Homo sapiens: one gene and its partners. The protein of the gene in region 4 purifies or fractionates together with the protein of the main gene of each other region. This does not show direct contact. Each region holds a gene or a part of one and is shown on either strand. Other genes may lie near its edges.

Region 1 (7,283 bases), on a different chromosome or scaffold from region 4:
TATTTAAGTTCTCAGGGTTGAAGTTCCCCCCAAGATGAAATGGAGCTAAAACAACCCCTTCCTCATGGGGCCGATGTCAGGAGCAAATGAGATTTTCTGCACACTACCTGCCACGCTACATGTTCCATAAACATTCACTGTTGTTCTGCAGTTCCTGATTAAATACACTCTACTTGGCCGTGTGTGTTGGCTCATGCCTGTAATCCCAGCACTTTGGAGGTGGATCCCTTGAGGTCAGGAGTTTGAGACCAGCCTGGCCAACATGGCAAAACCCCATCTCTACTACAAATACAAAAATTAACCAGGCATGGTGGTGTGCAAATGCAGTCCCAGCTACTTGGGAGGCTGAGGCAGGAGGATTGCTTGACCCTGGGAGGCAGAAGTTGCAGTGAACCAAATTTGCACAGCTGCACTCCAGCCTGAGTGACGGAGACTCTGTCTTAAAAAAAAAAAAAAAAAAAAAAAAAAAAAAAAAGCCAGGTGTGGTAGCTCATGCCTATAATCCCAGCACTGTGGGAGGCCAAGGCGGGCGGATCACCTGAAGTCAGGAGTTCAAGACTAGCCTGGTCAACAGGTTGGAACCCCATCTCCACTACAAATACAAAAATTAGCTGGGTTTGGTGGTGGGCGCCTGTAATCCCAGCGACTCGAGAGGCTGAGGCAGGAGAATTGCTTGAGCCCGGGAGGCAGAGGTTGTAGTGAGCCGAGATTGCTGCCACTCCACTCCAGCCTGGGGGACAGAGCAAGACCCCGGCTCACCAAAAACAAAACAACAACAACAACAAAAACCTTCTACTTGTCCAGGCATCCCTGGTCCCTCCAACCCAAAGGAACTTCAGTTTTAGCTCTGGACTCCCATAGCCTCCCAGTATGTCCCCTCTCACAGCATCAGTCACACTTGTGACTTGCTCCTCTGTCACCCCCTCTCCCTGCAAACTGTAGGCTGAGCAAGGGCAGGGCCTTAGCCTCACCCATCTGACTATCCAGCACCCAGCCCAGGGCCTGGCTGAAACCAGAGGCTTGGAAAATGCTTTCTGCAGGACTCAGACACCTGGCTCCCTTGCACTGGGCGTGGGGGTGGGCCCGTGAGGTTTTCCTGCCTCGGCACAGTTCTTTTCTCTGGATTACCCTTTCCTTCTCTCTCAGCCTACGCAACTCTGTTCTCATTCGGCAAGACAGCGCAAATGCCATCTTCCCCAGGAAGTCCTTCCTGAGCCGCCCGGTGCTGTGACCTCTCCCTCCTTGGAAATCTTAAAGCTCTGACTCCTTCAACCACTGACTTGCCACTTGCACATAAGCTCTCCAGCTTGATACCTTTAGGTTTGTTGGTTTGTTTTGTAGGATAATTTTTCTCTTCTGATGTTACATTCCCAATGAAATTTTGTTTTCCACTGAGGCGGGTGGCATTTACCAACATCTATCATCAGAGAAGGGCAGTTCCTCCAGAAAGTTGCATATCACACATGCTGCATGGCACATACATACACATAAAATTATTCCAGGCACACAGAGGAAAGATCGTGTGAGGACATAGCAAGAGGGCGGCCATCTACAAGCCAAGGAGAGAGGCCTCAGAGGAAAGCAGCCATGCCAACACCTTGATCTTAGACTTCCAGTCCCCAGCACTGTGAGAAAATAAATTCCATTGTTGAAGCCAAAAGAAAAAAAAATTCCATTTGTTCCCTGACTACTTTTTTATTTTTATTTTTTTTGAGACAGAGTCTCACTCCGTCGCCCAGGCTGGAGTGCAGTGGTGCAATCTTGGCTCACTGCAAGCTCCACCTCCCGGGTTCACGCCATTCTCCTGCCTCAGCCTCCTGAGTAGCTGGGACTACAGGCACCCACCACCATGTCCGGCTAATTTTTTGTATTTTTTAGTAGAGACGGGGTTTCACTGTGTTAGCCAGGATGGCCTCCCTGACTACTTTTAAAAAGGATTTAAAAATGGAATAAGGTGGCCGGGCACGGTGGCTCACACCTGTAATCCCAGCACTTTGGGAGGCTGAGGCGGGCGGATCACAAGGTCAGGAGAGCCAGACCATCCTGGCTAACAACGGTGAAACCCCGTCTCTACTAAAAATACAAAAAAAATTAGCCGGGCGTGGTGGCGGGCGCCTGTAGTCCCAGCTACTCGGGAAGCTGAGGCAGGAGAATGACGTGAACCCGGGAGGCGGAGCTTGCAGTGAGCCGAGATCGAGCCACTGAACTCCAGCCTGGGTGATGGAGCGAGGCTCCGTCTAAAATAAATAAATAAATAAATAAATAAATAAAAATGGAATAAGGTTTGTAATTTAGATAACGGTATTTTACCAACACCACCAATTTCCTGCTTTTGCTATTATACTGCAGATATATAAAATGTCACCATTGTGGGAAGCTGGGTGAAGGGTATATGGGACTCAATTTTGGTACTAATTTTGCAATTTCCTGTAAGTCTATAATTATTTAAAAATAACTTTTAAAGGCTTTGAGGCTGCTTAAACATCTAAAATTATATTAAATATAAAAACCAGTAATATCTATATTAGATAGGACGTAGAGACTTAGCAATAAGTGCACTTAGCAGTAAGTGCAAGCTTATTTATTAACAACTTTTTGATAATATTAAAAAAGATGGATAACAACCTCAGGGGATTGTTTTTGAGATTAGCAGTACCATCCACGTAATGGAATACTATGCAGATACTGGAAAGTGCCAAGTAGAAATGTATTTACTATTTTGGGAAACTTTTACCAATATTTTGGTGAGTTAAAAAATACCAACAGTGGCTCACGCCTATAATCCCATCACTTTGGGAAGCTGAGGTGGGCAGATCACTTGAGGTCAGGAGTTCAAGACCAGCCTGGTCAACATGGTGAAACCCCCGCCTCTACTAAAAATACAAAAATTAGCTGGGCACGGTGGTGCATGCTTGTAATCCCAATTACTTGGGAGGCCCAGGCAGGAGAATCGCTTGAACCTGGGAGGCAGAGGTTGCAGTGAGCCAAAATCACGACACTGCACTCCAGTCCGGGCAACAGAGCGAGACCCTGTCTCAAAACAAACAAACAAAAAAAAACAAATGATCTATCAAGTTTGGAAGAATATTCACCAAAATATTAAAAGTGATTGTCTTAGGTCAGTGGGATTGCAGATGGTTTTTTTCTTTTTTCTTTTTTTTTTTTTTTGAGACGGAGTCTTGCTCTGTCGCCCAGGCTGGAGTGCAGTGGTGTGATGTCGGCTCACTGCAAGCTCTGCCTCCCGGGTTCACGCCATTCTCCTGCCTCAGCCTCCTGAGTAGCTGGGACTACAGGCGCCTGCCACCACACCCGGCTAATATTTTGTGTTTTTAGTAGAGACGGGGTTTCACCATGTTAACCAGGATGGTCTCGATCTCCTGGCCTTGTGATCCGCCCGCCTCGGCCTCCCAAAGTGCTGGGATTACAGGTGTGAGCCACCATGCCCGGCCATTTTTTTTCTTTTTTTGAGACAGGGTCTGGATCTGTCGCCCAGGCTGGAGTGCAGTGCTGCAATTATAGCTCACTGTAACCTCAACCTCCTGGGCTCAAGCTATTCTCCTGCCTCAGGCTCCCGAGTAGCTGGGACTACAGGTATGAGCCACTGTGTCTGGCTCAAGGTCACTCATCTTAAGAATGGAGGGGTCCAAACTAGAGCTGTAAACCTAGTTTGGACAGAGAGAGACCCCTCTGTAATCCCAGCACTTTGGGAAGCCGAGGCGGGAGGATCTCTCGGGTCCATGATTTCGAGACCAGCCTGAGCAATAAAGTGAGACTCTCTCTACAAAAAATAAATAAGTAAATAATAAGTAATTAGCCGGGCGTAGTGCTGCGCACCTGTGGTCCCAGCTGCTTGGGAGGCTGAGGTGAGAGGATCACCTGAGCCTGGGAGGCGGAGGGTGCAGTGAGCCCAGATCTTCGAGCCACTGCACTCTAGCTTGAGCAACAGAGCAAGACCCTATTTCAAACAAACAAACAAAAAATGAGTGACCTTGAGCAAAACCCTGCCCCTCTTAGAACCTCAGATTTGCCGTCTTTACACAGAAGATGGACTTCAAACTCCCTACGACCTTGCCCGGCCCCCTCACGCTGAATTGGCTAGCGGGATGGTTTCCCAAGGGCTCTGCGGGAGACTGCAGCATAGCAGCGCCGCGGCTGCCGAGGGGTTAATACCGTTGGGCTCTTCCCCTTTTCTTGCCCCGCCCCACGGGCACCACCCCCGCCAGGGTTGTACCCTTGACCCCGCCTTCAGGCCTTGCGTCCACCGGAAGTACCCGCGCGCGGGCAGCTCACTTCCGCCCGGCAGGTGACAGCCGCGGGGCTCCGAGCCGCCGGCAGCCCGGACGCACCGGGAGAGCGAGAGGTGGAGGCCGCGGACATTTTGGTGCCAAGCCGAACCGAGCCGGGGCGCCGGGAGCTATTGGGACCTGCGGGTGAGGAAGCGGGGACCCGGGCGAGCCAGGAGAAGAAGTGGGGCGAGGGGTCAGGGGTCCTAGGTGAGGGGTTTGCGGGGTCAGAGGTCATGAAGAGGACGCGGCGCTGCAGGGGCGCGAGCGACGTCCCCAGCCAGAGGAGGAGGAAGGGCTGAGGGTTCGTTCATTCATTCGCGCCCACTTGGCCGCCGGCCTGTTCCTCGGCCGCCCCATACCCGCAGCACCTCCTGGGGCTTCCGCCCGGAGAGACAGGACTTAGGCCCCGAGGAATTCCCCACTGGCCTGAGGGAAAACTCTTCGGGCTCTGATTTCCTCTTTCGGACTCACCTCCATGGCCATCCTGAGGCCTCCTCGTTGTTCAGGGCGTTATCTCTTTGCCAAGGTTGAAAAAGAAGAAAGAAAAAAAAACTAGAAAACGGTCCCGTGCCGCCCGCCTCCGGCTAGGCACTGGCTTGGTCTTGTTTGTTGGAGCCTCTAAGACAAGTTAACTGAATGGAGACACCGGTGATAATGCTGCAAAATAACGAGGGAGATGCTTGCTAGTGGCTATCGAGTCCCTTCTGTGTACCGGGCACTGTGCTAAGCACTTTCCTTACAATGACACATTTAAACTTCACAGCAACCTTTGTGGGGATTAAATATCCCTATTTTATCGATGAGGACCCTGAGGCACAGAGAGGTTAAATCCCACATGTAAGGTCATTCGGGTAGTAGAGGCAAGGCCAGGTTTTCTGCCAGGCTGTCAGAGACCTGCAAAGTACAGAGACAAAGGAAAGACTGGAGTTAAGGTTGGGGTGTAGGGGATATTTAAGACTTTTAGCCAGACATGGTGGCTCACGCCTGTAATCCCAGCACTTTGGGAAGCTGAGGCGGGTGGATCGTGAGGTCAGGAGTTCAAGACCAGCCTGACCAACATGGTGAAACCCTGTCTCCAATAAAAATACAAAAATTAGCCAGACATGGTGGCGTACGCCTGTAATCCCAGCTACTTGGGAGGCTGAGGCAGGAGAATCGCTTGAACCCAGGAGGTGGAGGTTGCAGTGAGCCGAGATCGTGCGACTGCACTCCAGCCTGGGCCACGGAGTGAGACTCCGTCTCAAAAAAAAAAAAAAAAAAAAGATTTTTAGCTGCCGTTGTATTTATTTGGATTTATGTCACGATGTAGCCTTATTGCTTTTTGTCTGATCTTCATAAGGGGCATTCGACTTACTTTCTTTAGGATAAAACAATCCTACAGGCTGTTGCTATTAGTGATACCTTTCAGGGCAAGAGTCTAAGATTTTCCTGACTTTAGGGAACAGTGAGACACAAAACAGGCTATCCGTGAAAACTATTTGAAGATTGTCGAGAACTTCTCTTCAGAGTGGTTGAGCTGCATTCGTTTTGGTCTAAAAAGAGAGGAACCACATGACCTCTAGGGGATCTTTTGGTCCTAGGTTCTGGAAGAAGGTACCCAGAGGAAGAATCTTTGCCTTTCTGAGAAATATGCAGGCCCCATGGCTTCTTGCCAGAGCAGAGCACGTCTTACTTGGGAGGTGGTGAGACGGTTTGGTGGCTGGAGGACTAGGCTGTATGAATCTAAGCCTCATTCCATTGCGGATATTCACTTGCTTCAATTCTGCCTCAGTTTCCCTGACATCAACATGAGAAAGACCTGCCGCCTTCCTGTCTGCTCCTAGGGGTATGAACCTGTGAATGAACCCGTGAGGGCTTCCACATGGCTTCTGAAGAAAGCTGTATATAAATATTACTGTAATACCTTTTTTTTTTAAGCTGTGTGATCTATTCTCCTAGTTCCATTGAATTCACAGAAACTTAATATTGTCACCTTATATTCCCATCCTTCCAAGGGAGGATTTGAGATGAAGCAACTTGTCACAGAGGGTAGGAACATGAGCAGAGCTCAGAGCTTCTGGTTTTCTGTCCTGAGTTGAGCCCACCAGTCTCCTCTGACCTCTTAGAAACTGTCATGAGGAGCATCTTCAGTAGGTCTCAAAGAGTCAGATCCCTCAGAGATTGTGTGAAGATCATCTGTTGAGTGTAGGTCAGTGGAGGCTTCACCCTGAGCTGCTTCAAGAGCCCAGAGGTATGATGGAAAGATCACCAGACTCCCAGTCAGTCAGCCCTGGGTTCAACCCCAGCTCAGCAGCTTCCTGGCAGTGTGACCTGACCTGGACCGTTGACATAGGCTGGCCCTCCTTTACCTCAGTTCTAAAATAATACTGGCCACCCTTTCTGACTCCTCTACCCCTGGTTTGTGTGAGGGTTAGATGGGAAAATTTGTGCAGGGCCTGTGATTTTTGGGTGCTTTGACTCTAGGCAGACTGATGCCTGCTGGGGGCCTGTGTCTGAGGAAGGCTGCCAACCTTGGCTTCTGGAGCGTTACTTCCTTCTGCAAACAGAGACCTTAATGTACGCAGGACTTTTTCCACCCTTCTTGTTTCACTTCCTAAAAGTAGTTCAGAACAAGTTCAATTTGTTGGTCCTTCTGGCTTTGAGCTTGGGCTTGCATCTTTTTCTAGTCATCCTCTGAAACTCTTGCATGTCTTAACTACTTCCCAGGAACTTCCCGTGTCTGGCACCAAAGCCTGACATGCTGACAGTAAGCAAACATGGCTTGGGTTTTGCACTTCGCTGTGTTTCTGAAGGTTGAGGTGACATCTGTGCCTTGCAGACATTTCTTTTTCTCAGCAGGTCTTTTTGCCTAAGAGACATCGTTGATATTATCACAGCCCAGAAGTGATTTTTCTGTTCTTTATGTCTTCACATGGAGAGGAACAAATACTCCTGAGAAAAAATGTCAACAGAGCAGTTGGGGAATCCTTAAAGAAAATTCTGCTTGAAAATTCATCA
Region 2 (7,022 bases), on a different chromosome or scaffold from region 4:
AAGTTGCTTATGGACATAGATGTTATCTGAAGATGCCCCACCCCTCCTTCCCAAGGCTCAATCAACTAGCTTCTTTCCAAATAATTAAATGGGGCAAACTTTCTATTAGAAAATATCTACCATACATCACTAAAAAAAGGTCTGTCATTGATTCCCTAATGAAATATCAGTTAATTACTTAACCTTTCTTAATGAAATGATTAACATTTCAACAAACAAGGCGGAATGACTTCGCATCAAGCTGTAGATTACCAGTGACAGTGGTAACTATGTGTCCTCTACCATTGCGCCGTCTATTCTTTCAATCAGCTCCATGTTTCATCTTTTATAGAAATTCTTTATGCAGTAGTAGAGACACTCTACTTTTAAAATTTGGCCCATAAGAGTTTTTTTTAAGTGCCTCAGGGTCAGAACAGAAATTTTAAAAGTTTTTATTAGACGAATATCCCCAATGCTACCTAAACCTACAGAAAAGCAAACTGTGAAGTTCTAAACGTAAAAACAATTGCCAACTTTTTGGCAGCTATTAAAATAAAGCCACACCTAAAGCCAAAATGGAAATTAAAAATTAGGTGTGGGCATTATGGACACATTATTACCGGGTAACTTCAAAAGCCACATTATTAATACAGATGAAAAAATGTCTCAACAACTTTTATTTAAATAACTCTTTTGATCTTAGTGGTTAGATCTTTAGTTGAAGCCCTGAATATTTAAATAAGCCTCCTTAACATTTTATCTTCCTTTATTTCATAATCTTGTAGGATGCCTTCTTCTTAGGATTCTGGTTTCTTTATTTGTGTGGCATCGTTGGCTAGGCTATTTCCATCAATATTCGTGCATGCCCCATCACATACGATAGAGAATTTCCCAAGATGCTTGGGAAAATCAAAATACTTCTGCCAGCAGGGTTAATCCAAAGAGCAAACAGTTACAATTTTAAAATTAAGATGGAATACTCAGAAAAAAAAATTCTAGAGAGTCATCTGACACTAATTGGTAGCTACAGCATGACAACACCCATTGGGAAACATGGATGCAGGCAAGACAAAATTCAAAAGGAAATTATCTGATATTGACATTTGGTGAAAACCACCGATGTTCCAGGTTGTTCCTATCACGTTATTGAACTGTGAGGCTCTTGTTCTGCCTCTGTTTCTCTAAGTCTCCAAGGTTTCTTTTTGTGCCCTCCTGAAAAAGGAGCTCCGTTTTCTTCTCTTAGGTTTCACAATGGCCAACCAATTCAATTAAACTCTTAAGAAGGGTTGCAGGCTTTCCTCCAACTCTGATAATTGACAGGTCCAGTTTTCCCACTTTGGTGGGCATCAGGACCATGTGGGATGCGATTTAAAAACACAGATGCTGGCCCCACCCCAGATACGGCACATCCAGGAGTCGTGCAACTGTGTCTGTGTTGGGAACAACAGCTCTGCTGTGATTCCAATACTCGTGCTTGGTTAAAAACCACCGTTTTTCATTCGTAATAAAAATCCAAATACATTAAAAACAACACAGGATGGGCCTCAAGGTAAAATCAAAGAAATCATCAGTAAAATCCAAGTGAAGATAGAGATTTCAGTTCCACACATCTGAAAGAATAAATCACTTGATTCACAGGTCTCTAGCATGCATCAGAATTATCAAGGGAAGTTTGTTATAAATGTACGTTACCATGTCAATCAGCAAAAATTCTGACTCAAGGATCTGTATTTTAATAACCTACACACACACACATACACACACACACACACAGATACAGAGGTAGGTGAGCGAGGACCTCACTTTGAACCAGGCTGAATTAGGACCAACTGCAACCTCCCTTCACTTCAGACATGAGCATTCACTTCCATCTCTGTGCTCACCCCCAGGAGGGGAAGCCACCAGTGCCACTGGTCATCAGGAGGTAGGCACCAGGGCAAAAGAAACTCAAGCAAAACTCACATCACACCCTCCCCCAACAAAAGCTGCGGTCACTGTCCTGAGAGCACCAAGAATATCTTTTAAAAATGTGAGTAATAACAAAGCCCTGTATCATTGGATCCCTAAGCTCAAAGAACATATGTTAAAATATTACCCCTAATTCAAAAGCAGGGAACCTGGAGCAGAGAAAGTCACATTATGACTCAATTGCACAGCTGGGAGGGAGAAAGGACACCTCGGAAATTCAGTTTGATGCTAGAAATATTCTTCAGTGTCCTAGTAAACAAAGTGAATCACAAAATTAGCTAAAATCAGAGCATCTGGTAAAATGTGGATGTCCACCTGACTTACAAGTAATAAATAAATATATGTCCAAACATAAAACTCAGAGAAAATGTTTGTCCTAAGCAAATCTATTCTATTGAACATAAACAAGGCCCAATAATCCCACATTCAGATCCATTTTTCCCTCAGTAAATTGTCCTATAACATGCTAGCCTCTGATATCTTCAAACTGTTGAAATCAAACAGAATGACATGGGCTTTCTATTCAATGATCCCATTTCAGCTATTTATCTGAATTAGCAGCAGTTTGAGGAAATACACTCATCACAACATGATTCTGAGTATAGAGAAGTAAATAGTAAACAGAACACTGGAACACAACTGTGTATGTATTCATATTCCTTTTTAAAAAAAAAACTATTTTATTAAAAATACAATTTGGAAGGAAAGTGCAATTAGCTTTGCACAGGCACTGCTGAGATGTTCCCGAACACAGCAGACATATGTAAATATTTCGTGATATCAGTTCCATTTGAGTAGACCTGTCAAGATATTTACAGGGCTTGACAGTACTTCTGTCTTTAATTAAATTTTTGCCCAGATACTTTAATATAATTTAAATAGATTATTAGTTGTCAGAATCGAATATAAATTTTGTTTACGATTTAGTTACTTTAAGTACTCAGACTGAAGGAACTAATTTAACCCTACAACTGAGCAGCTTTAAGCATCAAGGCCAAACCACTAGAAAGCTCCCACTGCCCTTTGCACTCTACCAATAACCTTAAATTATTACAACTGAATTGTAAATTTCATGGCACTAAACTGAGCCCCCCTCCCCTCCTTTTGAAATAAAACAGCTTGGGGAGGGTCATGAGGAAACACCCATTTACACCTGTTCAGGTACTAGGTAGGTTCTCCCTTTCAGGCACTCGTTCTCACAGCGGCTGGCTAGATAGGAAACATTTTTTTCTCACTCTAAGTCCCATAAAATAACTACCGAACAAACACCTGTTGTGTACAAGGCAGGGCATGTATTAAAGACTGGCATCAGGGCATTGCAAAAAGAAAAACAAGCCTTGCAGAGACATCCACAAGCCAATCTGGTCAATAGATTTCACGACTGGGTAAAACAACAGTGCGTGCGAAGAACACAGCTTCTGGCACAACCTTCTTGTGAATGGCAGCTGACTTCTAAACAAGGATTGAAAAATGCCTTAGCACAAACTGACTGTAATTAATAAGAATAATTTATTAAAGAAACAAAGAACACTGTCTAATTGTCTTTCCTGACTGCCATGCACTTTCCCCCATTGTACTTCCTCTTTGCAGAATACCAGCCTCGTAGCCCTAACTGTAAGAACATTATCTATGGGATGCAAAACCAAAACACTTCTAGAAATCAAATATTCCTTACAACATTTATTTTTAGGTTAGCGACACAAGCCAAATCTGCTTAATTTCCATTAAGCACATGGTCACATGCTCATTGAAATAAACTACAAACGTCCCAGGAAAAAAAAAAAAGGAAAAAAACTATCATGCAGAAGATACCCCAAATTTCGCCAGGTTTGCCCGTTTCAGGAACTTGCCTCATCTCAAGGCCTGCTGGCATTCCAGCTTTTGGAGCCTTTATCCTTAATTCATCCAAGTACCGGAGAAGAGAAATATGTTGAAAAATCAGTTTAAGATGGTTCCTTGGATAGCATATGTATAGCAAAGTGGCCTGCAGAGTAGAGTAACAAATGACAAGAAAGATCATTAAAAAAATGCATGGGCCCAAGTGCAAACCTACTTGGCTTGCTGGCTTGTCTCACAAACTCAATGTTTGATCACCTGGTGGGACTAACTACCATCAACTTAAAAAAAAAAAATCCCCTGCAAATAGTAAAAGTATACATTGGCTCAGGTATAAAGTTCACCTGTCTATTCAGCAGATGCCTTTCTTGAGGTTATTTTCTTTAGAAAACAAACCCCTACCTGCTTGAGAGGTTTATATACTCTAGATTCAAAAAAACACATTTAAAAAGAAAAAAAGAAGGCCAATATTGCTGGTATAGCAAAAATGGCATTTACTATGACTGAAATCTATAAAAGAAGTGTGACATCTGACAGGATAAGGAAGAAAGGAAAAGCCCTTAGCAAAAAGAAAAAAAAAATTAAAAACAAAAATACCACCTGTGTAAATCTAGCCATGCTCTGGAAACCCTTTCTCGGTCGTGGAGAAGAAACAGCTCATGCTGAATGCCTTGAAGTTGCAATTAAATTGTAGTAATTTAAGATTATCGGGAGAGCAAAGGGCAGTAGGAGCTCTTCAGAGGGTTTCCCTCCCCACTTAATGCTCTTCAGTCACGGGTTAAATGAGTTTCTTTAATGTAAGTACCTTAAAGTAACAGAATCATAAACAAAATTTATACTATGTTCTGACAGCCTGCAATCTACTTCGGTTTTATTAACGTATACCTAAAATTATTTTTAAAGGACAAAATTCTTGCTATACCCTGTAAATATTCTTGGCATTCCCACTGAAATGTGATAGGTACTGTAACACCTAACCTTGTCTAAATATACATACTTTTTGAGATGTGGAATCTTACAAGATAGTGTTTCAAAACTGAGTTTGAGTCATAAGTAAAACATGAAAATCAAATAAATATGCACAATAAGATTGGCTGCAAAGAGGAAGCTGGGTTCAAAAGAAGTTGTCACATCTGCTATATTCCTTCTCTTTCTTAATTTTGGCACTGGACCCCCTGCAATATAAATATATTTGAAAAATATCACAATTCTTCTGTTAATTTAAACAACTGCTGAAAACAGACATACCCTTCAACAGAGCCTAAGATGCAAATTTACAAGGCCAGGGGTATAGTCTTTAAAAAGGCAAAGAAAAACTCAGTAACAGAAAACCATGCCTAGGCTCAATATTAACTCAGTTAACTTTTGCTATTATAAGTATAAATGGTTTAACTAGAAAATATTTATAGCGTTTTCAAAACATTACATATTGCAGAAAATTGCCTAATAGCATCCATGTGTATGTTTAACCCACATTGCTTAATTATACAATAAAGGTATATCTAGTAAAAACTACAGACTTTGAAACATGTTGTGCACCATGGTTATGAAACTCTGGCTTACAAAAAATATATAAACTGCTTACTATGTGACCGACACTTGTTAATTAAAAATATAATCCTTAAATGACAATTATTTTTATTCTTCTGTATGTGTTTACTTATCCTGTTTCCTACTTTGTTCTACTTAATTTAAAATAACATTTAATTTGGGGATAGTTTATCCCAGAAAAAAAAAAGTGTTACACAGTTTATACTCCACGATTTAAATATAAACACAAAATCTTAGACATCTCCAGCAATATAAACCCCTTATCTGAGACAGTTAATTTGAATAGTTGATGTTTCTTTCATTATACTTTGATAAACCTGTGAAAACAAAATGCTACAGTAATTACTGTTACTACTCCCTTTAAAAATGTAAAGTAGTTAAATTTTCCTAGACAACAAGCAAGGACAAGTTACAGAGAACTTGAATAAAAGTAGCAACGTGGTCATGTTGAATGTCAATCTAAAAAAAGAGGTTGTCTAATCTGGAGACTGCTCTCTCTCGCCTTTTTAAATTCCAAGAGTGGGCTGACACAAAACTTCATCACCAGAGATTTTTTTTTTCTTTTTTTTCTTTTTTCTTTTTTTTTTTTTTTTTGAGCTTCACATCAGATTTAAACTCTCACATACAAAACCTTGGCTTCCCTGACAAGGCAGATCTTCTAAACTCAATGTGAGAAAACGTTATCTAACTCTAGTGTAGGAGTCTAATGTTGGTAAAAAGAATTCCATTGCACAGTTCTTGGTAGCAAGACAGTCTCTGGACGACTTAATATTCCTTTAATACATTTTTGGGTAGCATTCTCCTCATAAAGAAGGATACATTAAAAAAAATAACTTGTTTCGCGACTCGGCATCCATAAGGAACTCAAATGCTGCCCAGAGAGGGGCTGAGTATTTCCTTCCAAGTGAGCCTTCGCTTGCACAACAAAGATTAGCATCTGCAATGGTCCATTTCTGCATAAGTGAACATATAGCCTTGCTGCTTGATCGAATAGTCCAGGGTTCTCCGTGTAGCAGCTCCTGACAACCACCCAGCAGCAGTTCTGTTTGATCTCTCCTGCTTCCTTAATTTGGGTTGTCAAGGTTCAGCAGTTGGAGGCTGTTTACTTTACTTTTCCAAAAAAAAAAAAAAAGTGATTTTTTTTTTCTCCCTCTCTCTCATACAATGACTAATCCAAAGTCTAAGGGGGGTGGGGGATGCAGCCAGTGGCAAGATGTTAAACCTTTTTTTTTCCCTTTGCAGTGAGATTTTAGCTGACACCTTTTGAATGGTAACTAGTTGAGTTCCTTTTTTATATTTTTCTTGCTCTTTAATTGTGAGACGTTTCAAATAGAAAGACAGAGGGGGGAAAAAAACAGTCCAAATTTCTGAAACTGTGAGCTGAGTTTTCTTTTCCTGGACCCAAAGGGATGGGTATTTCCACTTTGAGAATCAAAACTCCAGTGGAATTCTAAAAAAGATTTGATACATTTCTCTCTGGAACAGAAAAATAGCAGGAACTCCTCTTTCTCAATTATGTAGGCTATCCCTGGGTAGAAAACACCTGAAGTCTTACTATTTCTTTAAAAATTCTAGTTTACACATCTCCCTCCAAATTGATTCTTGCTGTGGAAAACGGGGGTGGGGGAAAGGGGATGGAATGGAAAAATTTTGCAGCGATTCTTCAATATATTTTCAGTAGCAGAAAA
Region 3 (7,709 bases), on a different chromosome or scaffold from region 4:
TCCTTATCCAAGTAGGCGACCTTCTGTCGAAGACTGGTGAGTTCTGGTGTCGGGAAAGCAGGGAAACTCAGCCTCAGCCAGTGGCAAGAAACTGAAAGGCCTTCCTGCCAGGCCTCTGAGGGAAAACCTCGGACACCATTCCCCAAAGCCACCCCCATCTAATAAGGCCCTCCTGGCTCACCAACACCATTCTTGCGTAGTTCATCTGAAAGCTGGTAGTTGTTTGTCCGGAGTTCCAGGAGCTGAGCCTTTGGGGGAGGCAGGAAGGGAAAAGACTTGGTCAGGAAAGCGCCCCTACCCCTACCATGAGGGAACCAAGCCCCTAAGCTCCACAGACCTTACGCCCTCCATGTGCCTCTGTAGCTACTCCTTAAGACCTGTATGTGCTACACCCAAAGTGACCTTCCAGGCCCTCAGACCCTGGCTCACCTTTTCCAGCTCCACTTATAACCCCAGCCAGCCTCACCCCTCCATCTCACACTACAATCCACGCTGCACTCAGGCCATCCCAGAGCACTGCCCCCAGTCAGGGTCTTGCTTGTGTGAGTTCCCTGGCTCTCCATGCCCACAGGATAAAGTTCCTCCTCCTCATCCTGGCTGACCTCTCCACACACTGAACACACACTGTCAGGGGTGTTGTCCATATTTCTGACCAGACCTGGGGGCCTCTGATGGCAGGGGGTTAAGGGCCTGTCTTCCTCCCTCTTTCCTAAGGGAAAAGGGTCAAGTATTCTGCCCAACTTTCATTGAGTCAGGGGGCTTTCCAGGGTCCCCCCACCTCCAAGGCTCTCAAAATACATCCAGGCCCCCTTCAATAATTAAGGGAGGACCAGGTGCGGTGGCTCACACCTGTCATCCCAGCACTTTGGGAGGCCAAGGCGGGTGGGTCACGAGGTAAGGAATTCAAAATCAGCCTGCCCAATATGGTGAAACCCCGTCTCCACTAAAAATATAAAAAATTAGCCGGGTGTGGTGGCGCACACCTGTAGTCCCAGCTACTCGGGAGGCTGAGGCAGGAGAATCGCTTGAACCTGGGAGGTGGAGGTTGCAGTGAGCCGAGATTGTGCCACTGCACTCCAGCCTGGGTGACAGAGTGAGACTCTGTCTCAAAAAAAAAAAAAAAAAAAAAAAAAAAAAAGAATTAAGGGAAAGTGCCAGGCGCAGTGGCTGACACCTGTAATCCAAACACTTTCGGAGGCCAAAGTGGGCAGATCACTTGAGGTCAGGAGTTCAAGACCAGCCTGGCCAACATGGTGAAACCTCATCTCTACTAAAAATACAAAAATTAGCTGGGCGTGGTGGTACGCACCTGTAATCCCAGCTACTAGGGAAGCTGAGATAGGAGAATCACTTGAACCCGGGAGGTGGAGGTTGCAGTGAGCTGAGATCGTGCCACTGCACACTATAGCCTGGGTGACAGAGAAAGACTCTGTCTCAAAAAAAAAGAAAAAGAAAAAGAATTAAGCATCCTCCTCCCTACCAGCCCTATAGGACCCTGAGGCTGGTTCTACCCAGCAAGGCCGGTTCCTTCCCATTAAGGAACTTACTGTTCCTTCCCCTACCAGGACTTTTCCCTCCCTCCCACGCCACCAGCCTCCACTCACTGTTCTCTGGTAGTCTGCTCAAGGTCAGAGGGCTTGGCCTTCACAGAATCTTTCCTACTCCTGTCCTCTCCAGGACCCAGTGATCTGTCTCTCCAAGTACTGGTCCAAGTGGAATATCCTTTGTACCCCCCGAGACTTGCCCCCCAACAAAGCCCAGTAGTTCTCCCTCATTCATGGCCCAGTGGGATCAATGTTCCTCATTCAAGGGTATTCCCACTCCCCTCAAGATCTCCCCAGTCATGATCCATTGGGAATGGCCCTACACCCTTCAGGGTAGGCCTCTACAAGGCCTTGGGTAGGCCAGTTGGATGACTCTTACTCACTTAGAATCCCTTTCAGATGACAGTGGTCTTCCCCATTCATGGGTTAATCAACTCGCCCTTCCATTCTCAGTGTCCCTCACACAGGGACAGCTGGTTTCCCTCATTCAAGGACCAATTGGATTACCTGTCCTCCCTCAGAGTTCCTCCCCTCCCCATGCAGGACCCTGTTCAGACCCCCCCCCCAGTGAGGAACCCTCTCAACAAGGGCCCATTCATAGTGCAATGCTATGGCCTTTCATTGCATCTCAGAGTCCCCCCAAAAGAATCAAGTGGGGGTACCTCCCCAAAGCCCAGTGATCTTCCCTCCTTGTAGTCCAAGGTATCAATCTTTTACCCCTCTGGTCCTCCCCCCAGTTAATGGGATTAATGGTATTACCCATTCATGGCCTTCTTCACCCCAGGCCTAATGGGATCACCCTTAATCATCCAATGGTGCCGCCCCCTCTTAGGATGCACTACCAACCACCAATGGCACAGGATCTCCACCTCCCAGGAACAATGACAACATCTGGGGTCTTTCCCCAATCCCCGGGCACAGTGGTATCTCCCCCAAAACTTACCACCTCCCACCCGCTAATGGTTCTGCCCTCTCAAGGGCTCCCACCACCATGACGCAAACGACCCAACACCCGCTTCCTTCCTCTCCAGACAAAATGGTTTCGCCTTCTCAGGATCTCCTTCCCTCAAAGCCCATTATCATCACCCGCCGACGGTGTCCCCTGCACGGGCCCAAAAGTCTCGTCCCCTCCAGGTCTGAGTAAGGTACCGCCTACTTAATGGCGCTCTCCCAGCCCACAATGCTAACAGAGTCCAACCTTCAAAGCCGCAGAGTATCTCGGAATCCAATAGTCTCACCACTCCGAGCCTCAGTTTCCCTTCTCCAGACCCACCCCATAAACTCAGGGTCCATCCCAACCAACCCCTTCTCAGAGCTGATAGCACGACCTCTCGCTACCCCGCCCCCGGTCGCCTAGCCGGGTGGTCTTTCCCACCGCGAGCGGCACCTGCATCCGCTGAAACTCCTCCTCAGACAGAGCTTGCGCCATGTTCCTCCCCCCACCCCCCCGCCAGCTTTCTGCGCAGACGCAGCTCGCGCCTCCTGGCAGTATTAAGGTCGGACCAAACCACTGGCCAGGAATGGAGGGGGTAGAACCTAATTCCGAAGGGCAGCATTTTGGAGACGCAGAGAAGAGAACGAAACCGACGAGTCAGGTGAACTGTAATACAACGTTCTACCCGAATGTAAGTCATCTGATTGGCTTTTGGACTCTTCTAGGCCACCCATTGTGATACGACATTATTACATCCCCGTTTCATGGGTGGACTCGTCGCTAGGGAAGTCTTTGCCGACAGAAAATCACCCTTCCGCGGTATTCCTTTAATGAGAATGGGTAACTTAATAACCATAGAAATGAAAGCGGAAGCTTCGCTCTGGTCTTGTTCCCGCCCCTCCTCCGGGAGACCCCAAAGGGGAATCCCACCTCTTGTAAAGCCTTTGGCCTTTTTTTTTTTTTTTTTTTTTAAGGTTTGACACTTATTTTGTTATCATGATACTGCATGTCACGTTAGGTAAAGGACTTAGCCACCAATAAAAATAGCAGAGTGGAAAGAGTGACAGTGAATCAAACGAAAAAGCTACATTAAAACAAAACAAAAACAAAAAACAAACCAGGGTGGTGAAACACCAGGCTCATTCAAGTATTAGAATTCACTATAACCCTCACCGATCTGAGAGTAAGAAATGGTATCTCAGTGTAGTTTTTTTCTTATTTTCTTTTTTCTTTCTGTTTTTGTTGTTGTTGTTGTTGTTGTTTTTCTTTTTTGAGACGGAGTTTCACTTTTGTTGCCCAGGCTGGAGTGCAGTGGCACGATATCCGATCACAGCAACCTCCGCTTGGCGAGTTCAAGCGATTCTCCTGCCTCAGCCTCCCGAGTAGCTGGGATTACAGGCGCCCGCCACCTCGTCCGGGTAATTTTTTTTTTTTTTTTTAGTAGAGACGGGGTTTCTCCATATTGGTCAGGCCGGTCTCGAACTCCCGACCTCAGGTAGTCCGCCCGCCTCGGCCTCCCAGAGTGCTGGGATTAAGGCGTGAGCCACCGCGCCCAGCCTTCTTATTTTCGTAGAATTTAATGATTTCCCTGCTGTGGAAAAATATTTCCAGCAGGGCCGGGCGCGGTGGCTCACGCCTGTAATCCCAGCACTTTGGGAGGCCAAGGAGGGCTGTTCACTTGCGGTCAGGAGTTCGAGACTAACCTGGCCAACATGGTGAAACCCCATCTCTACTAAAAACACAAAAATTGGCCGGGTGTGGTGGTGGGCGCCTGTAATCCCAGCTACTCGGAAGGCTGAGGCACGAGAATCGCTTGAACCCGCCAGGCAGAGGTTGCGGTGAGCCGAGATCGCACCACTACACTCCAGCCTGGGGGATAGAGCGAGACTCTGTCTCCAAGAAAAGAAAGAAAAAGAAAAGTATTGCCAGCCAGGACTCTTTGATTTCTTTCTTGATTTAATTGACTTTATTGAAAGATAACGCTATTGATCTGTCTATATACATAAATGCACCCATTTTAAGGGTACAATTTAGTGAGCTTTGTCTAATGTATACAACCTTGTAACCACCATCACAAGCAAGATAGGGAACATTGATTTCTTTGTATCCTATCCCAAACCCCACCCCCTATCCCAGGTAACCAATGATTGGCTTCCTGTTACTGGATTACATTTCTCTTGCAGAGTTTCATGCAAATAGAATGAGACAGGATGTATCCTTTTCTGTCTGGCTTCTTTCACTCATCATAATCCTTTTGAGATTCATCCAAGTTGTTTCGTGTATAAGTATCTTTTTTTCTTTTTATTGACTAGTAAAATTCCATAGTATGGGCCGGGCGGGCTCAGTGGCTCACGCCTGTAATCCCAGCACTTTGGGAGGCCGAGGCAGGTGTATCACCTGAGGTCAGGAGTGCAAGACCAGCCCAGCCAGCATGGTGAAACCACATCTGTACTAAAAATACAAAAATAAGCTAGGAGTGATGGTACACGCCTGTAATCACAGCTACTCAGGAGGCTGAGGCATGAGAATCGCTTGAACCCAAGAGGTGGAGGGTGCAGTGAGCCGAGATCGTGCCACTGCACTCCAGCCTTAGCGATAGAGGGGAAAACTCTGTCTCAAAAACAAAACAAAACAAAACAAAATCCATAGTATGACTATACCACAATTTGTTTATCCATTCTCTTAGTGTAGTTTTAATTTGTGTTTCTCTTATTATGAGTGAGATTCACCACCTTGTCCTATGTTTATTTTATTTTTAATTTTTATTTATTTGTTTTTTTGAGACGGAGTTTCACTCTTGTTGCCCAGGCTGGAGTGCATTGGCGCGATCTCAGCTCACTGCAACCTCCGCCTCCCAGGTTCAAGCAATTCTCCTGCCTCAGCCTCCCAAGTAGGTGGGATTACAGGCGCCTGCCACCATGCCCGACTAATTTTTGTATTTTTAGTAGAGACAGGGTTTTACCACATTGGTCAGGCTGGTCTTGAACTCCTGACCTCAGGCGATCCACCTGCCTCGGCCTCCCAAAGTGCTGGGATTACAGGCATGAGCCACCGTGCCCGAACTTATTTTATTTCATTTTATTTTATTTTGAGACAGGGTCTTGCTCTACCGCCCACGCAGGAGTGTAGTGGCACAATCAGGGCTCACTGCTGCCTTGACTTCCTGGGCTCAAGCAATTCTCCCACCTCAGCCCCCCAAGTAGCTGGGACTACAGACATATGCCACCAAGAATCATTTTAATATCTGTTCTTATTTTATTTTTTTAATTTAATTATTATTTTTCTTTTGAGACAGAGTCTCCCTCTGTTGCCCAGGTTGGAGTGCAGTGGTGCAATCTCGGCTCACTGCAATCTCTGCCTCCCGGGTTCAAGAGATTCTCCTGCCTCAGCCTCCCAAGTAGTTGGGACTACAGGCACCCACCATCATGCCCAGCTAATTTTTGTATTTTTAGTAGAGACGGGGTTTCACCATGTTGGCCAGGTTGGTCTCAAACTCCTGACCTCAAGTTATCCTCCCGCCTCTGCCTCTCAAAGTGCTGGGGTTACAGGTGTGCACAACCGCACCTGGCCTCTTTGCATATTAGGAATATTAACAACTTTTTTGGGTGAGGGTGTACGGAGTTTTGCTCTTGTCGCCCAGGCTGGAGTGCAATGGCGTGATCTTGGCTCACCACAACCTCTGCCTCCCGGGTTCAAGCGATTCTCCTGCCTCAGCCTCACGAGTAGTTGGGATTACAGGCACCCACCACCACGTTTGTATTTTTAGTAGAAATGGGGTTTCACCATGTTGGCCAGCCTGGTCTCGATCTCCTGACCTCAGGTGATCCACCCGCCTCGGCCTCCCAAAGTGCTGGGATTAAAGACGTGAGCTAAGCTACCACACACGGCCTTTTCCTTTTCTTTTTCTTTTTTTTTTTTTTTTTGAGACAGGGTCTCGCTCTGTCATCCAGACTGGAGTGCAGTGGTGCAATCTCGGCTCACTTCAGCCTCGACCTTCTGGGCTCAACCAGTCCTCCTACCTCAGCCTCCCAAGTAGCTGGGACTACAGGCACAGGCTACCATGCCCAGCTAATTTTTTTTTAATTTTTTGTAGAAACCAAGTCTTACTATGTTGCCCAGGCTGGTCTCAAACTCCTGGGCTCAAGTGATCCACCCACATCTGCCTTCCAAAGTGCTAAGATTTCAGGGGTGAGCCACCACACTAGGCCTACTTTTGGTTTTTTTTTGTATGTGTGTGATTTTTTGAGATGAAGTCTCGCTCTGGAGTTCAGTGGCCCGATCTTGGCTTACTGCAACCTCTGCCTCCCAGGTTCTAGCGATTCTCCTACCTCAGCCTCCCAAGTTGCTGGGATTATGGGCACGTGACACCATGCCCGTCTAATTTTTGTATTTTTGGTGAGACAGGTTTCACCATGTTGGCCAGGTTGGTCTCAAACTCCTGGCTGCAAGGGATCTGCCCACCTCAGCCTCCCAAAGTGCTGGGATTACAGGCGTGAGCCACCGTGCCCGGCCCTTGCCTACATTTGTAATATATAAATTATGTTGTCACAGTCTCCATTCCATACTGGATTCCCTGACCTCCTGGTTGCTTTTTTTAAAATTTTGCATACATTAACAAACTTTTTTTATATCGTAAAGATCAATGGGTTTTGACAGAAGCATTTTAAAGTGTTCCACACATAGATTTTTTTCACATTTCTTGTTAGATTTCTTCCTAATTATTTTCTTTGATGCTATGGATGCTATTGTAAATGAGGTTTTCTCTATCATTGTATCTCTTTTTTTTTTTTCGGTAGAGACAGGATCTCACTATGTTGCCCCAGCTGGACTGCACTGGCTATTTATAGGCATGATCATGGCACACTACAGCCGTGAACTCCTGGGCTCAAGCCATCCTCCCATTTCAACTTCCCAAGTAGCTGGGACTACACATGTGAGCCACTATGCGTCTTTATATCCTCTCACTGGTTATTGTTGATATATACAAAAGCCATTGATTTCTCTATGTTAATTTTATATCCTTCCATTTTACTGAATACTTTTATTGTTAGAGTGTTTTATCATTGATTCTCTAGGGTTTACCAGGTACAAAATCATATCATCTGAAAATAGGGATATCTTTATTCTTTTCCAATCAGTCACACTGGCTGTAATTGATTTCTCTTGCCTAATTACCATTTTCCACTAACAGGAACCAGGGCCCCTTAGAGAAATAGCTGATTGCAGGGCTG
Region 4 (7,022 bases):
CTGTGGGACACACAGGCTTGTTGGCAGTGGGTATACTCCCAGCTCCCAGCCTGGCTGCAGCCCGGGGCCTTTGTGAGACTGGGGTGGGTGGCCCGCAGCCCCGGAAGCCCGGGGCACCTGATGGAGCTAGGCTTCTGGCGGAACTTGAGCACGGCCTCCTCCAGCTCCAGCTGCTTCACCAGGGCCTTCAGCTGCACCCGCCACTCCTCACAGTCCTCCATCTGCAGCTCCAGGTTCTCCTCCGTGTTCCTCTGGGCCAGGAAGCGGCTAGTGATGTCCTGGCCAGTCCGGGGGAGAGAGAAGCAGGTGTGGGCCAGGATGGTGGGCAGAGGGGGCTTCACAGAACTGGTTTCTTCTGGGCCCCTCCTAGACGCTAGTGCACTTTCTCTGTGCTCATTCACAAGTGTGATCACAGCTCACTGCAGCCTCAACCTCCCAGACTCAAGCGATCCTCCCACCTCAGCTTCCTGAGTAGCTGGGACCACAGGTGTGCACCACCACACTTAGCAGGGGTGAAGCGCTTTGTGGATGTCATTGCACACGACCCTAATGGCAGGCAGAGAGGGTAGATAACCCCATGTAGAGATAAGGAGATCATCACTGAAGGACGTTGTGTCACTTGAGTCACTTGTCTGACAGTGGACAAGCTTGTGTCAGGGCAGTGGTTAGGAGCTCAAGGCCTAATAATAATAAACGCAGATACACAGATGGGATTAAGATAAAAGGATTTGGGGCGGCCGAGGGAGTTGCCACTTTGTGTGTCCATTTCAGAGTGCCTCAGACCCCAGCCCAGCTCAGCCACCCTCCTGCCATGCTCCGGGAGTGCCAGGGAGCATTACCCAGACGTGAGAGGCTCAGCCACCCTCCTGCCATTCTCTGGGAGCGCCAGGGGCATTACCCAGACGTGAGAGCACCGTACAGCACTCTTGACCTTCTCCACCACAGCAGTCACGCCCGACTGGTATTCCATTTCTGCTGTGGAGGTCTCTTTTCTCCTCACTGGCAGAGCAGAGGGGAGGGGCAGTCAGCATGCAGGGATGGCTCAGGGGCTCTGTGTAAGGCTGTCAGACACCTCTGTACCTGCCCAGCTGCTGGGGCGGCCACCCAAGACACAGGCATCCTTCAGAGATGCCTGCCCCCGCCCCAACCTGCTCCCTCCTCAGCCCAGCCCTGCAGGGACGCCCCAGGCAGCCCCAGAGCAGAGGTGGACCCGGAGTGAGTGGCGCAGCACTGTGAGCACTGTGGGCCCGGTGGTGCTTCTCAGAGGCAGCTTAGGGGTCAGGATGCTCATCCTCTGCAGAGTCACTGGGGACTGGGCCCTTGGTGCAGGGCCCTTGGGTGCTGGGGCCAGCATCTCTGAGGCCACATTTGGCTACAGGCTCTCAGCCTCTGGAGGGAGAGGCAGGGACCTGTCCTTCCCTTCACCCTGGCGACCACATGTCACACCTGGCCTCAGGGTGACTTGATCCGTTGGCCTGAATCAGTGCCAGCCTCTCCTTGGGACCCTGGCTGGGGGCAGGTGGGGAGCTGAGCGCTTACATTTCAGGGTCTCCGTGCTCATCAGGTTCGAGGGGAAGTCCAAGTCCATCTGGCCCTGATGGGAGGTGGGGGCGGGGAAGGGATGAGACATCCTTGGCAGGGAGTGGGCCCTGAGTGGTGGCCCTGAGCCTGTGTCCACCCAGCTGTCATGGGGATGGGCAGCCAGCCAGGCCCTGGCCTGGGGCTTACCCGGCGGTACTTCTCGCTGGTCTCCTTCGTGTGGATCTTGTCGATCAGCTTCTTCTGCTGGTTGAGCCGGTTCTCCCTTGCCCGGCGCTCCTCGATGAAGGACGCCTCCCTTTGCCTCATGTTCCTCTGGGGACATGCGGGTGGGCACAGGGTTGGGGAGCTGTCTCAACAAGGCCCCTAATGGCAGTAAAGCCAGCGGGCGGTTGGCCATGCTCACCTTACTAGACTTTGGAACTGCATCCCCGGCCAATGGCCACACCCTTTTCCTAAACCACTTGTGCCCGTGGCCCCTCAGCTCACGGCCCTCCTTGCCCATGCCTCAGAGCATGTGCCAGCCCAGACGCTCTGCTGCCCTCCAGCCGCTGGCCCCCAGCTGCCTCCTGGCCAGGTCCACCTAGAACTCACGGAAGTGCATTCAGCCTGCCTGAAGACAGATTCATCCTCTTCCCCAAAACCTGGCCTCTTCCAGCGTGCCCTTGGGCAGCTAAAACCGTCATCTGCTAACCCCTGCTCACGCACCCCAGACACTGCTCTCACCCTCGCCACTCTCGTTGCCAGCGCTTAGTGGGGTTGCCTCTTGAGGAGTTCTCAGCTCCGTTGCTCCTGGCCACCCCTTCTCCACCCCGGGTATACCCAGGTGATCAGCGCTTCTGCCCTGGCACCTTCCAGTCCCTGCAGCCTGAGTACACCCTTTCTGAAGCACAGACCTGGTCACATCTTTCCTCCACCTCCTCCCAGGGCTCCAGGTCAGTCCTTGGGCCCCCAGCCCAGCCGCCTCCGTGGACTCCTGGGGCCTGTGCCTCTGCAGCCTCCACTGCCCTGGCCACACGCTGCTCCATGTATCACACCCCTCCCAGCCCAGGGCCTTTTCCCAAGTTGTACCTCCTCCTCCCTAGCCCTGGCCACACCTGACCTTTGCGGGTTCAATCCCTCAGCCCAGCTCAAGCACTGTCTTCCTGGAAAGCCATCTGCCACCCCACCTGTCTCTGCTGAGCTGGCTCAGGGGCTGTGTGGCATTTCTTCATGGACTACTGGATGAGTGCCACCCACTTCAGGAGGACAGGGTCTGCCTGTCCCGGTCCCTGCTGTATCCCCAGAGCCTTGCAGGGACCTTGGCACAGACTGGGTGAATAGGTGACCCCCGCCCTGGCCCGGCCAGTTCTCTCCCTCTCCTCTACTTCATGGCTCCTGTGCTGGATGGGACCTGCTCTGTCCAGTGGGTGAGCAGAGCAGGCTGGCCGGGCTGGCCACTGGATCCTTCTGGGGATTGTAGGCAGTGTGGGCATGGGGGTCTCCTGAGAGACCCTGGCCAGAAGACACAAGAGAGCCCGCCCTGGGGGGCCCCAGCCCTGGGCCCTGAGCTCACCTTGACCCCATCCGAAGATCCAAGAGGGCTGGCCCTGGGGGGCCCCCAGCCCTGGGCCCTGAGCTCACCTTGACCCCATCCGAAGATCCAAGAGGGCTGGCCCTGGGGGGCCCCAGCCCTGGGCCCTGAGCTCACCTTGACCCCATCCGAAGATCCAAGAGGGCTGGCCCTGGGGGGCCCCCGGCCCTGGGCCCTGAGCTCACCTTGACCCCATCCGAAGATCCAAGAGGGCTGGCCCTGGGGGGCCCCCAGCCCTGGGCCCTGAGCTCACCTTGACCCCATCCGAAGATCCAAGAGGGCTGGCCCTGGGGGGCCCCCGGCCCTGGGCCCTGAGCTCACCTTGACCCCATCCGAAGATCCAAGAGGGCTGGCCCTGGGGGGCCCCCAGCCCTGGGCCCTGAGCTCACCTTGACCCCATCCGAAGATCCAAGAGGGCTGGCCCTGGGGGGCCCCCAGCCCTGGGCCCTGAGCTCACCTTGACCTCATCCGTGATCATCATGGCATCTTGGGACATGATCTTCATATCCGACAGCTCTGAGCAGTAGTTGACCACGAGGTTCTGCAGCTTGTCCAGCTCAATGGGGTATCCTGCCAGCACCTGTGTTGAATGGGGTTCTCTTGTGGCCCCTACAGAGTGGGCTGCAGTTGCCCCGAGCTTTTATCCCCCGACTAAGAGCCCTGAGAACAGTGATAGGTTCTCCTCTGTGGCCCCAGCCACCTCCCCCACTCCCCGCTGGGCACAACGGTGATGAAAGGTGTTTCACAGGGAGTGGACAGTGCTGGCCTGGTGGACTCTTTCACCACCTAGGGTCCAACAACCCAGAGAGACTGAGAGAGTTTGTGATGAAATGCTCTGCAGAAAAGGCTGACTGAAACCCGGGGAGGTTTGGGGACAGTTCTGCTTTGAAGTGAAACAGAGGGGCTCAAGACATGGGCTTGGGGTCAGAGAGTCAGGATTCAAGGCCAAGGCAGCTTCTGACCAGCTAGTTTAGCTGTGTGACATTGGGAAAGTTACTTAATCTCTCTGTGTCCCCATTTGTAAGATGATGGCTCGTTCAGAAGGTTGCCATCAGGATGAATTGAGTGTAAAAGGAATTATTTAGCCCAGAACCAGGTACATACGTGCTCAGGATAGCTTTGCTATAGTGGTTTGTTTTTTGTAACTACAAGTATAGGCCAGGTGCGGTGGCTCACGCCTGTAATCCCAACACTGGGAGGCCGGAGGCAGGCAGATCATGAGGTCAGGAGTTAGAGACCAGCCTGGCCAACATAGTGAAACCCTGTCTCTACTAAAAATACAAAAAAAATCAGCCGGGCGTGGTAGTGGGCGCCTGTAATTCTAGCTATTCGGGAGGCTGAGGCAGGAGAATCGCTTGAACCCGGGAGGCGGAGGTTGCAGTGAGCCGAGATCTCACCACTGCACACCAGCTGGGGCAACAGTGTGAAACTCCATCTCAAAAAACAAAACAAACAAAAACAAAACTAGAAGTGTAGAATCTTCATTTTTAAAAATATGGATGACTATGGGAATTATTGCTTGTTTTTTCCTTTGTTCTGAGACTGAATCTCACTCTATCACCCAGGCTGGAGTGCGATGGTACGATCTCGGCTTGCAGCAACCTCTGCCTTCTGGGTTCAGGTGATTCTCGTGCCTCAGCCTCCCGAGTAGCTGGGATTACAGGCATGCACCACCATGCCAGGCTACTTTTTGTATTTTTAGTAGAGATGAAGTTTCACCATGTTGGCCAGGCTGGTCTAGAACTCCTGACCTCAAGTGATCCGCCTGCCTTGGCCTCCCAAAGTGCTGGGATTACAGGCATGAGCCACCATGCCCAGGCCGGGAATAATTGTTTTTTAAGTGTGTATGTTCTAAACAGAAGAAGGCGCTACCAGAGGAACAGAAAGCACCCAGGCGAAGGAGGGGCATGGACAGGGGTGGGGAGAGGGGTGGGCCCAGGAAGCATAGAGGGGCAGGGCTTCCAGGTGAGCCAATAGGACCAGGGGCCAAGGCAAGAGGGACAAGCAGAGGACGGTGCTGAGAGCCACCTGGGCTGGGACCACAGCAGGAAAAGAGCTGCGATGCAGCCTCCGTCCACCACTCCTCCTAAACTGCACTTCCATGCTGTCACCTTCCCGAAGCATGGCTCTCCAGAGCTCCCCTTTGCCCAGTCTTAGGGTGAGGGTGTTTCCAGCTGGCTCCCCGCCCCATCCACAGGTTGCTCCTCTTAGCACCTCCTGTGCTCTCCCTATCTACAGCCCATCTGGAGTAGGTTCTGCTTTGTGGCAGCCCGAGGGGCGGTGCTCAGCCTCCCATGAAGGGGGTCTTCCCTCACAATCGGACTGCTGGCTGCCTTTGGCCTCGTCTGCAGGGAGCAGGGCGGGTGGGCTGGCTGGGACGGCAGCAAGCCCTGCTTACAGGCCCAGCGGACCCTCAAAGGTGCAAGGACTTTCTGAGGGTGCAGGACCTGTCTGACTCTCAGAGGCCCAGGCAATGAGAAAATGACAGGCAAGATACAAACAATACCAAATCATTTAATACGTGCAAGAAAGTCCGAAGAATTCTGATATACCCCACGATATGCTTTTTTGGAATAGCCAAAAATGAAGTTTAAAAAAACGTTTTCCACATGCCTCGGCGTCCTGCGTAGCCGGTGGTCAGGCAGAGCTCCCTCTCCCTGGCGGGTGCGGGGCGGCTCCGCCCCAGGACGCTCCCGCCCCTCCCAGATCCCAGCCCCTGACCCCCGCCCTTCCCGGGCCGCTGGGCTCACTGTCTTCAGATAATCCAGCAGGTCCAAATACAGCAGGTGGATGTTCTGGCTGGTGATGATCTTGATCATTGTCTTCTCGATGTTGTTCTCCAGCTGGCGGATGATCTGGGGCGGACCGAGGGCGCAGTGAGAGGGCGTGGGGACCGGCCGCCCGGAGGGTGTCGGGGCTGGGTTTTCTCCGGAGAGGGTCGTGCTCTCTTAGCCCCGCCCCTCCCGTGAGCCCTCCCCAGGGGACCCGCAAGTCCCGCCCCCCGGTGGCCCCGCCCCTCCCGTGAGTCTTGCCCCAGTGGACTCCGCCCCGCCCTCCCAGCCCCGCCTCTCCACCTGCAGCAGCCGCAGCTCCTCCTTGCTGGCGTCGGGCTGGCTCCGCAGGCTGTCCAGCTCCAGCTGCATGCTCTCCAGCTTCTGCCCGCGCCGCCGCACCAGGTGGATCAGTAGGTTGTGCATGTTCACGCGGTCGAAGACGTACTTGCGCAGCTTCTCCCGCACCACCTGGGTCGGGAAGGGCACCGCCCACTCGTGGTTGCGTAGGGGGCCGCCATGGAGCCCGCCAGCAGGCGGGCGGGTGGAGGCTCGTGGCAACCCCACAGGGAACCTGGGGCTGGGCACCTGCTCCGTCCCTCGTCGGCTCCGCAACATCTAGTGGGGGGGTGCTGGCAGGGGTGGGGAGGGTTGGGTCTCGAGGCCCCTCCTGCCTGGTTACCTCCATGGTGCTGCGGCAGTGCGCCAGTCGCAAAGGCAAGTTTTTCCCGCAGGCCTTGGAGATGGTCCACTGGTCATACTGCGGAGCGGCGGCGGCTGAGCTAGAGCGGGCCCTTTGCGCACCCGCAGCCGCTGGCTCCTCCAGGCATTCTCCCCAGGGCCTCTTGTATCCCACGCTAGCCCAGTAGCGAGATCCCTGCTTCCACGAGGAGCAGAGAGCCGCGGGACCCCATCCTGGCCATCCAAGTTCGGAGGCGACGTGGTAGGGGGGTATGCAGAGGAGGGCCTGGGTGTCCCCTAGCTGGCCGGAGAGCCAGAGGGGGCCCCTGCTGCAGGATGTGGGCTCACAGATGCCAAGCCCTCGGGTTGGGTGGTGGGAAACCTGCCCACCGGATGCTGGGGTGACTGGAGCCCAGGGCACAGGTCCTAGCAGAGCCCCTCCTCACATGCCCCCTGGA

What was found.
Region 1: the proteins of CCDC183 (region 4) and AP1B1 purify together in Homo sapiens (affinity purification with mass spectrometry; 3 studies listed by BioGRID and IntAct, with this or other methods). This does not show direct contact.
Region 2: the proteins of CCDC183 (region 4) and FOXP1 purify together in Homo sapiens (affinity purification with mass spectrometry; 3 studies listed by BioGRID and IntAct, with this or other methods). This does not show direct contact.
Region 3: the proteins of CCDC183 (region 4) and GRIPAP1 purify together in Homo sapiens (affinity purification with mass spectrometry; 3 studies listed by BioGRID and IntAct, with this or other methods). This does not show direct contact.

What each region holds. Positions count from the first base shown.
Region 1 is NC_000022.11:29,385,571-29,392,853, reverse strand, and holds the start of AP1B1 (AP-1 complex subunit beta-1), read left to right. Parts: upstream 1-4,283; 5' UTR 4,284-4,430; intron 4,431-4,757; exon of another isoform or gene 4,758-4,945; intron 4,946-7,283. UniProt on the Homo sapiens protein: Subunit of clathrin-associated adaptor protein complex 1 that plays a role in protein sorting in the late-Golgi/trans-Golgi network (TGN) and/or endosomes.
Region 2 is NC_000003.12:71,573,722-71,580,743, forward strand, and holds part of FOXP1 (forkhead box protein P1), read right to left. Parts: intron 1-7,022. UniProt on the Homo sapiens protein: Transcriptional repressor. Can act with CTBP1 to synergistically repress transcription but CTPBP1 is not essential. Plays an important role in the specification and differentiation of lung epithelium.
Region 3 is NC_000023.11:48,999,257-49,006,965, forward strand, and holds the start of GRIPAP1 (GRIP1-associated protein 1), read right to left. Parts: upstream 3,009-7,709; 5' UTR 2,974-3,008; coding exon 2,932-2,973; intron 249-2,931; coding exon 182-248; intron 44-181; coding exon 1-43. UniProt on the Homo sapiens protein: Regulates the endosomal recycling back to the neuronal plasma membrane, possibly by connecting early and late recycling endosomal domains and promoting segregation of recycling endosomes from early endosomal membranes.
Region 4 is NC_000009.12:136,799,334-136,806,355, reverse strand, and holds part of CCDC183 (coiled-coil domain-containing protein 183), read right to left. Parts: intron 6,644-7,022; coding exon 6,566-6,643; intron 6,355-6,565; coding exon 6,187-6,354; intron 5,968-6,186; coding exon 5,863-5,967; intron 3,693-5,862; coding exon 3,570-3,692; intron 2,430-3,569; exon of another isoform or gene 1,855-2,429; coding exon 1,729-1,854; exon of another isoform or gene 1,595-1,728; coding exon 1,540-1,594; exon of another isoform or gene 1,000-1,539; coding exon 899-999; exon of another isoform or gene 772-898; intron 307-771; exon of another isoform or gene 279-306; coding exon 118-278; intron 1-117.